Linked DNA regions of Homo sapiens. The protein of the gene in region 2 interacts with the protein of the main gene of each other region in a pairwise test. Each region holds a gene or a part of one and is shown on either strand. Other genes may lie near its edges.

Region 1 (3,500 bases), on a different chromosome or scaffold from region 2:
ATGTTAGAACATGAGTTGGAAGAGGCTGAGGCAGGAAGATCACTTGAGCCCAGGAGTTCGAGGTTACAGTGAACTGTGATGGAGCCACTGCACTCCAGCTGGGCGACAGAGTGATACTTTGTCTCTAAAAAAGGAAAGAAAAGAAAATGAATTGGAAACAGACAAAAGTTTATCTGAGGACATAAGTTATAAGGCTCCTTATAGTTGTCCAGAGGTGAAAGGTGAGACATGCCTGAAATAAGTACCTGGACTTTTAAGGGAAAAGGAGGACTCAAGCATGATCCCCCCCCCCCCCGCCCTGAAGTTCTGGGTGGAAGGCGATACCACCCCTGGGATAGGGGATACTGGAAGTACAATAGTTCTGGAAGGTTGGGACACATTGTGAGTTCTGTTGAGGACTTATTCCACGTGTGGTACATGTGGGATGTTCCCTGAGGATGGTTAACAAGCTCAGTAGATAAATGGGTCCGAGCACAGGAGAGATGTTGGAGTAGGCAGAGAGAACCATCAGCAGTGGGGTTAACTGCCTGCCTTCAGCAGGGCTCCTTCCTAAGGGGAGAAAGTTTAGAAATGGGTTTTGATCAGTGATTTCTTACTTTATGACCAGTTTGATTGGCATGCTTCTCTTCTATGCTTAACTTTTAGAATTCTTAGATAATGTGTATTTTGAGCCCTTTTCATAAAAACCAATATAGTTCACTACTTTGAAGAATTCATCTTTTTTCTTCTTGGCTGGCTGGCCTCATTAACTCCTTCCCTGAGTGTCTTTGCGATAGGAGAAAGCTGGTTAACTCATAATGTGATACTGTTTATTTTCTTAGATTTGTGACCCAGAAGGAAATCTCTGACCTCAGCTGTGGCTCTTGGTGCTGGCCAGAAGCCAACTTCATGTCTGAGTGCACGAGCAGCAGTTTGCCATGGAGAGCTTGGGGCTGCACACGGTGACCCTTAGTGATGGGACAACAGCCTACGTCCAGCAAGCTGTCAAAGGTAAGTATTTCTGGGGACCTCAGGATCCTGCCCTGTCCCTCAGCCTCTGGAAAGGAGTGTCCATTTCTAAGAGTCCCACCATCACCTTGCCCTCCCGCCTGCTTACCCTTGCCCACCACCACAATTTGCTCTGCATTAGAATCTCCTGTGGTGCTTGATGAAAAGGGAACTCTAAAATAAAATGCTACAAGTCAGACAATCCCAGTCATAGGAACCAATACCTCTCAAAGACAGAATTCCTAATATGTAATAAGCAGTTGATAAATATTTCTGGAATGAACACAGTGTTAGTTATGACTCCCTGCTTTTCAGATATCCCCTGTCACAGTTTTTTAGTGCTTTCTAGAAGCAGTTTATCATCTTAATTCAAGTATATTCAAACATTCAAACTACTAAGCATCTGCCATGTACAAGATGCTCTTTTAAGCCAGGCATAGTGGCTCATGTCTATAATCCCAGCACTCAGAAGGCTGAGATGGAAAGATCACTTGAGGCCGGGAGTTGGAGACCAGCCTGGGCAACATAGCAAGACTCTTGTCTCTAAAAAAAATAATAAAAATAATAATCTGGGTGCAGCAGCATGCACCTTTAGTCCCAGCTATTCAGGAGGCTGAGGCAGAAGGATCACTGAAACCCAGGAGTTTGAGGGTTCAGTGAACTATCACTGCACCACTGCACACCAGCCTGGGTGACAGAGCAAGATCCCATCTCTTAAAAAAAAAAAAAAAAAAAGATACTCTTCCTGATTCAGAGAGGAACACCCAAGCAGAGATCTCATGCCCTAATCCCCACTAGGGGATGCCAGAATTGAAAATATAGGACATGTAGTTAAATTTGAATTGGACGTAACAATGAATACTCTTGTAGGATACATACATCCCAAATGTTGTAGGGACGTATGTATACCACATACTAGGGACATACATATACCCCTTATAAGGGATAGACATATATAAATGTGGGATTAAGCTGGGCTTGGTGGCATGCACCTGTAGTCTCAGCTACTTGGGAGGTTCAGATGGGAGGATCTCTTGAGGCCATAAGTTTGAGGTCAGCCTAGACAACAGCAAGACCCCATCTAAAAAAAAAGTAGGGGGTGTTAAATACTATAAAATACTAAAATAATAATACCAAGTTCTAAAAAAAAAAAAAAAAGTATTGTTTATCTGAAATTCAGATTTACCTGGGCATCCTGTATTTTATCTGGCAATTCTATCCTTACACTGAAGGTACTTAAAATCAAGGTAGGTGTGGAGTCAGAATAAAGTGTTTAGGGCAAGGCCTGCAGGCCAGGGACACTTTTCCTTTCTTGCCAGTGTTCTCAGGCAGCCAGATAGCATTCGTGTCTTCCTTGGACAGCACCTTGAACAAGGCAAATACTGCCTTGTTCCTACTGTTCATTTGGCGTTTTCTGGACTCCATGATTGTCACTGTCCTCCTGAAGCACTGTCATTGCAACATTGCCCTCCTTTATTTCAACACACTCTCAGAATATATTTCTGCTCCTAAGTTTACAGATAAGTTGTTTATTGATTTCATTTTAAGTTGTCTGTTTCCTGATGATGACTAAGGAGTCCCCTTAATCTCATCAGTAAGCACTTTCCATATGACAGTGTGTGGGGGTCCCTTCTGGAAAGGTTTCTTGTCAAGAGCTGTCTGTGACATGTGGGTTCTTGTTGGCTTCATCTTCTTGAGAACGCAACTTCTCTAGAATGCTTTTGAAGCCTGAAACTCTCTGTTTGCAGACTTCCCACTCCAGGTCTTGCCCCTCCAGTGCAGTCTCCATGGGATGGAAGAACTTAGAACTCTAGCTAGGGTTGTGTTTACTCCTTGGACCCAGTTAGTTCCCGTGCCTCAGTCTTCCACTGAGAATTAATGGTCAAACAAATGAATAAAAAGCAAGTGACCACACCTGACCTGAGAGAGCCACTCTTTCCTTATATCTATCCTTCTTACGTATTTCTTTATTCTGTCAGTCTTCCTGGCTGTTCTTTGCCCACTCTGTAGTGTTGCAGTGTGCACTTACACACACACATATGCAAACACACACTCACTCACAACAGATTTTCCCTCTGCTCAGGGTAGAGCTCTCCTTCAGAGACCAGAACCACACTTTCCTGAAAGGCTTCTCTGACTTCTCCTCTGAAGCTTTTGACTGAGGCATTTTTGTCTCTGTCTGCTGGAAGCCCTAAAATTGTAAGAGACTTATCTTTAATTAGGATGAGTATAAAATGTATTATTCAAACCCAGCATTTTAAAAGTGGAAGAATGTGCTATTAATAAATGCACTAGGACTGTTCCAGGCAAACTGGGGCGTATGGTCACCTCTCTGTAATGGGATATGAGGCCCTTGTCAGTCAGCTGTTCTCCCCACTGCCTCTCTCCATTGTAGTCTCTGGTTGTTTGAGGAAATAGTAGGCTAAGTTTTTTCTTCAGACAACTCTTCTCAACATTTTGTTTTCTACCTTGAAGCAGTACCCACTCTGCTGGCCGTAGCTTGCTGATGCTTT
Region 2 (5,444 bases):
AAATGCTATCCCTCCCCCCTCCCCCCACCCCACAACAGGCCCCGGTGTGTGATGTTCCCCTTCCTGTGTCCGTGTGTTCTCATTGTTCAATTCCCACCTATGAGGGAGAACATTTACTTATTTTTGATTTTGTAGCCAGAGCTTTTAGTGTGATATCCGAAACAATTTTTGCCAAGGCCAATGTCAAGGAGCTTTCTCCCTAGGTATTCTTCTAGTAATTTTAAAGTTTCAGGTCTTACATTGAGCTTTTACCCATTTTGAGTGGATTTTTGTGTATGGTGTAAGATATGGGTCCAATATCATTCTTTTTCTGTGATATCCAGTTTTCCCAGCACCATTTGTTAAAAAGACTATAATTTTGCTGTTGTGTCTTCTTTGTACCCTTGCTGAAAATTAGTTGACTGAATACATTCAGTTTTATTTATGGGTTCTTTATGCTGTTCCATTGGTCCATGTGTCAGTTTTTAAAGAGCATGGACTTTAAAGCAAGACTTTGAGTTCAAATCTCAGCTTCACGTGGGGAAAATTACTTCATTTCTCTTTCACTTATAATAACAACAAGAATAAATATATGTAGTTCATGACTACATATTAAATGAGTAAATACATATAAACAAATAGAAGATTGACTGGCAAATAGTATGTACTTTATAACTGCTTGTTGCTTATTGTTATCAGCCATTAATATTGTTTGTATTATCACAATAATTCTTATAATACCTTGTGTATAATAGGTGGTAAGATTTTAAATTAATGATATAAATTTTGCCTTTTCCACATATTTACTTTGTTTTTTAAGAAATTAATAATATCATTAATGATCATAGCAAATAAGGTCTAGCCATGCCATATTCCTTCCATGTCTCTGTTCAAGACTCTCTATTTGAGTGAGAGAGCAGGTAAAACACTGTAAATCAATCCTAATAATAGCACATCTGTTGGGAGTCACAGCAGAAGATTAGATAGGTGACCAGTAAACATTTTGTAAGGGCTGAGTGAATTTTATTTTTTCTGGCATGATGTGTTAAATATGGACCAAGCACAAAGGTGACCTGATTTTCCTTGCAATATTTGTTTAAGAAAACAACTATGTCCTATCCTTGGACCTTGAATATTCACGAGTTTTTCCAAACTGGAATACCTGAATTCCAGAAGCTTTCTGGTGTGTGATGTGTGTGTGTGTGTGTGGGTGGGTGGGTGGGTGTGGGGGTGTGTGTGTGTGTTTGAACAGATGTGAGACTGTGGAGTCCAGTGTGGGGAAATCTGGTCATGCATGTTTAGAGTCTCTGTCAACATCTATAATTTTGCAACGTATCTGTGTTTGTAGTTCTGGACATTTGTAGTTTGCCTGTGCCCAGAATTTGCTCTCAGGAATAATCTAGACTAACGTTAGCAATACATTTGGTCACTTAAATTTAATGCTAACTCTAGAGTTCCCATGGCTCTCAAGAGTCACTCTGTGGTCCCCTGGATTGGAACACTATGGCTTGGCTTTTCTCTGGTCCCAGTGTCATCCTAGAGGAGAAATTCTTAGTGTCAGACCATGAACCACTTTGAGAACCTGATGAAACTATGAGCACTGCCTTTAGGTAAATTTGTGTACTCTAACTCACACTAAATTTGTCATAGCGTTTCAAAGTTTCAGAGATCCCTGAGGTACCTTTGCAAACTCCTCTCAAAGAATCAGTTGCAATCAGTTGGCTTTATTGTGCAAGAATCAAAATATTGAATGTGGCATGAATGTAAAATGTAAGGAGAGAAGAGCTGAATCTGTGAAAATCACATTTTCTGTTGACTGAAGGCAGACAAATGGCTGAAGGAGAGTGTGAAGTAGTAATTTGGTTTCAGCAAGTCCTATAAAAAATAATGATAGTTTAGAAATTTATTCATAGTATGTTAACAGTTCTCATGATATATATTTATTTAGCTTCCACAATTTTTCTTTCATGTCTGTATCCAATAAGTCAATCAGATTACATATTTAAACTTAAATATTTAAAATAGGCATATAGTAAACTGAAAATAATAGACATTATGTAATATTTACAGAAAAAACTCTTTTACATGCTTCTTTATGTTTTGCATCAGTAAAATATGTAACTACTTATTAAATAACTTGCTTTCATGTTGTCTTTATTAATTTTCTTATTTTGTTCTCCAAAATATAATAAGCCAGCTGTTTAACCAGCTCTTGTTCTCTTTTTCTTAATGGATATCCTGTTGAACAGCAACTAAACAACACAATTTACCCATATGCTAGTCTAAGGAAATCACAGTGTATTTTCCCTGTTTTTCAGCAAGTTAGACAGCCCATATAAAAATAAATGACATAGTAATTAAACCCCACTATCTGAAATTAAACAGGTTTGGTTTGCCTCCCATTTGCAATTTCTAGCTGTGATAATTTACTTAATGTCCTCAGTCCTACTGGTTTTTATCCCTAAATTTGAGATAGGAATAATATCTGTTTCATATGGTTACTATGGGAATCAACAGACATAATTATGTACGGTTTTTATCATTTAGTGGAGACTTAGGATACTGGTATGAATTTTACTTTATCTTTTCCAATACATGACATTTTACAGATTGATCAGTTTTTAAAATCCTTTCCCATGTGCATTCTCTCTTGAGTCTTATAGCAACCAGAATTATGAGAAAATAAAAGTTCAGAGAAAGTAATGACCAGCCTATGGTCATTAGGCAAGCAGATGAAAGAAGCAACCTTTTCTGGGCTAATGGTAGTCCCATGATATCACAGACCATTGTCTGGTATTTTAGATCATAAAACATGTAGACATCTGATGGACTGAAAATATTTGTTGTAAAGAAACTCCACATTTTGCAACTTTCTCCCCAAATTATTTTACACTCTTTGGATATTTTCCACTTTATTAATCATTCTCTTTGTTTAAATTCTTCTCATAAGTTTCAAATTATTTTATATTCTGCCATTATCCATTGGTCCAAGTAATAAATAGTAACACTTTGCATCACATTGTGTTCTGAAAGTATCCTTTTAATATTTATGTGTTTTTCAAGTTAAGCATTATAATTCTTCCATGGGTTTATCTTAGAATAGGAGAAATTTGAGAGGCTTAACTTCATGAATCATTTTGGAAATGATGTCTGAAATAAAGAAATGCATGGAAGCATATCATTTCCTTTTACTCTGTTCATACTACAATGAGAGTGCAAGAGAATTGTTACAGAATTAAAATTTACTCAAACTCATATTCTATATAACTTCTTCTAAAAATTATTTTTGAAATATCATGAAAATGTTACTTGCTGTTTTACTCTACTGTCATAGTTTGTGTGTGAATAAGGATGAAATAAAACTATTACATTCTAAGAGTGTCCCAATTGTCAGAAAAAAGTTTGATAATGAAGTTGCCAATTATTTTCACTTTGTCAAATAAAATTATTTTAAATTTCTAGTTGGAACAGAATCTGGTGTATCAATGCTATGGGTTTACCAAGGTAAAACTGTAAGTACCCTGTTTTGTCTGCTTCTGTAACACACTTAGTTTATCTATTTGTACTATTTTAGAATTTATGGTTGTATTCATAAATCCATGCTTCTTGTCGGAATTACTCATTTTATATACTGTTAATTTACCTGCGTTGTGTTCTTTGATATTTCCTTGGTGTTTTTATGCCGTAGGTGGAGTAACTGCAACTGTGGTTGTCTCAGGGGTGCTCGTGATGATGGACTCTGAAAAAGCTTCTGGAGTGACTACACTGTCCACCGTTGGTTCAGTGGCAGGAGCTGGTGTAGGTTCAACAGTAGCAATGGTATTGATGGTAGGGATGATTATTTTATCCTGAATTTTCTTTGGGGGGATGGCAATAAATGATGGATGCAGGTTTGGGCGACGTACCACAGTGGGTGGGTGGCTATTTGGCAGGTATTGCCGCTGAGGAATTTGGGCATGTGGCCTAACTACAGCTGGGTTTGCATAATATGTGCGAGGCACATATGGATTATTAATTGCTATAGCTGGTCTACGTTGGTACAAATTGGTTCCATAATAAGGATAGCTATTTGGCACATAATACATTGGGACATATGGAGCTGTTTTCTGATAGAATGGTCTTTCATCATTCTCATGGCACTGCAAAAAAAATAAATTATACAGAATATTATTATTATAGACCCAAATGTGGAAATACCTTAAATCTGCATTTTTTGAAATAATATAGTATTTACCATTGAGTAAGATATTAGAAGTATGGAACCCAGCAGCAATATTATTTTATAAGATGTTGATTTGTACATTGCCTTTCCACTTTATGATTTTCAATATTATAAATATTATTTTGATAATATTAATATAATATTTGTTTCAAGAAATTAGATGAGTTTATTCATAATGTAAACCATATTGCCCAGAGATTGGCATATATGGAAAGTGATCTTATATGTTAGCTATTGTAGGTACAACACAGAGAAAAATCTCATTGAGAACTTTGACATGTTATACACAAGCACAACATGCAGACACACACAGAATGGCGCACACACACGTATGTATTCTCACCACATATTTGTAATTGGTCTCAAATTTTATTCATTTAAAAATTAGCCCAAGAGCACATTTATTTTTTCCTAAACTATAGCAGAATAGTAACATAATGTGATGTGGAGAGATTCCTGGATTTAGATTTTGGATTTTTTTTGGTTTAATTTTCTTCACAAAAGATTAGATAAAGAATTGTCTATATCTATGTGCCTCTGTTTAAAAATTTGTCAGTAGACCTTTCCATATGAATAGAAATAAATTGACAAAATTATACTACAAAGCAAACATTTCTCCTAAAACGAGACACATTTAAATGTATTCAAACATATTTGGGAAACGAAAGGGGAAGTAAATATAGATGTATGAGAAGTATTCAAAGATGGGTCAGAAAAGGATCTTCCCTTGTCTTAAAAAGTGGAAAGGGGAAATATTAAGCTTTACTTATGTTTTCATTTTTTTCCAATATGAAATGTTGAAAGAGTTTTCTCATATTGCTAAATATACATGAAAACCAAAGATACATGATTTGGGTTATATAAGAAAATAAAACTTTCAGATGAACATCAATGTTGATTCATATCACCTGTTGCTGAAATTATTTTCTTGCAAATATTATTAGATTGTTTTATGGAAATGAAATATTTAGGTTTTAGACAGAAGGCATCTATAATACAATTGACCTTTGCAGAATATATTTTGTAGTTCATGCCTGTAACAGAAGTAATTAAAATAGACTTACTGCTGGTTGTTTCTGGTTTTGAACCTCCACAGCCTGGGGAGTTCCAGAAGAAGAAATAATGAGAAATAAGTTAAAAAAGAAAAAAAAAGTACTTAAATCAGTTAAAAAAATCTTTTGTGTTAAAGACAAAATATGTTTTCTTTTTATTTTTTAAAACATTTTTCATGAGTGATCTATGA

What was found. The genes of interacting proteins can lie anywhere in the genome.
Region 1: the proteins of CSN3 (region 2) and ZNF76 interact in binary tests that used the Homo sapiens proteins (3 or more experiments, as listed by UniProt).

The regions. Positions count from the first base shown.
Region 1 is NC_000006.12:35,280,235-35,283,734, forward strand, and holds part of ZNF76 (zinc finger protein 76), read left to right. Parts: intron 1-821; 5' UTR 822-917; coding exon 918-990; intron 991-3,500. UniProt on the Homo sapiens protein: May be involved in transcriptional regulation.
Region 2 is NC_000004.12:70,247,672-70,253,115, reverse strand, and holds the end of CSN3 (kappa-casein precursor), read right to left. Parts: intron 5,299-5,444; coding exon 5,266-5,298; intron 4,119-5,265; coding exon 3,657-4,118; 3' UTR 3,623-3,656; intron 1,855-3,622; 3' UTR 1,684-1,854; downstream 1-1,683. UniProt on the Homo sapiens protein: Kappa-casein stabilizes micelle formation, preventing casein precipitation in milk.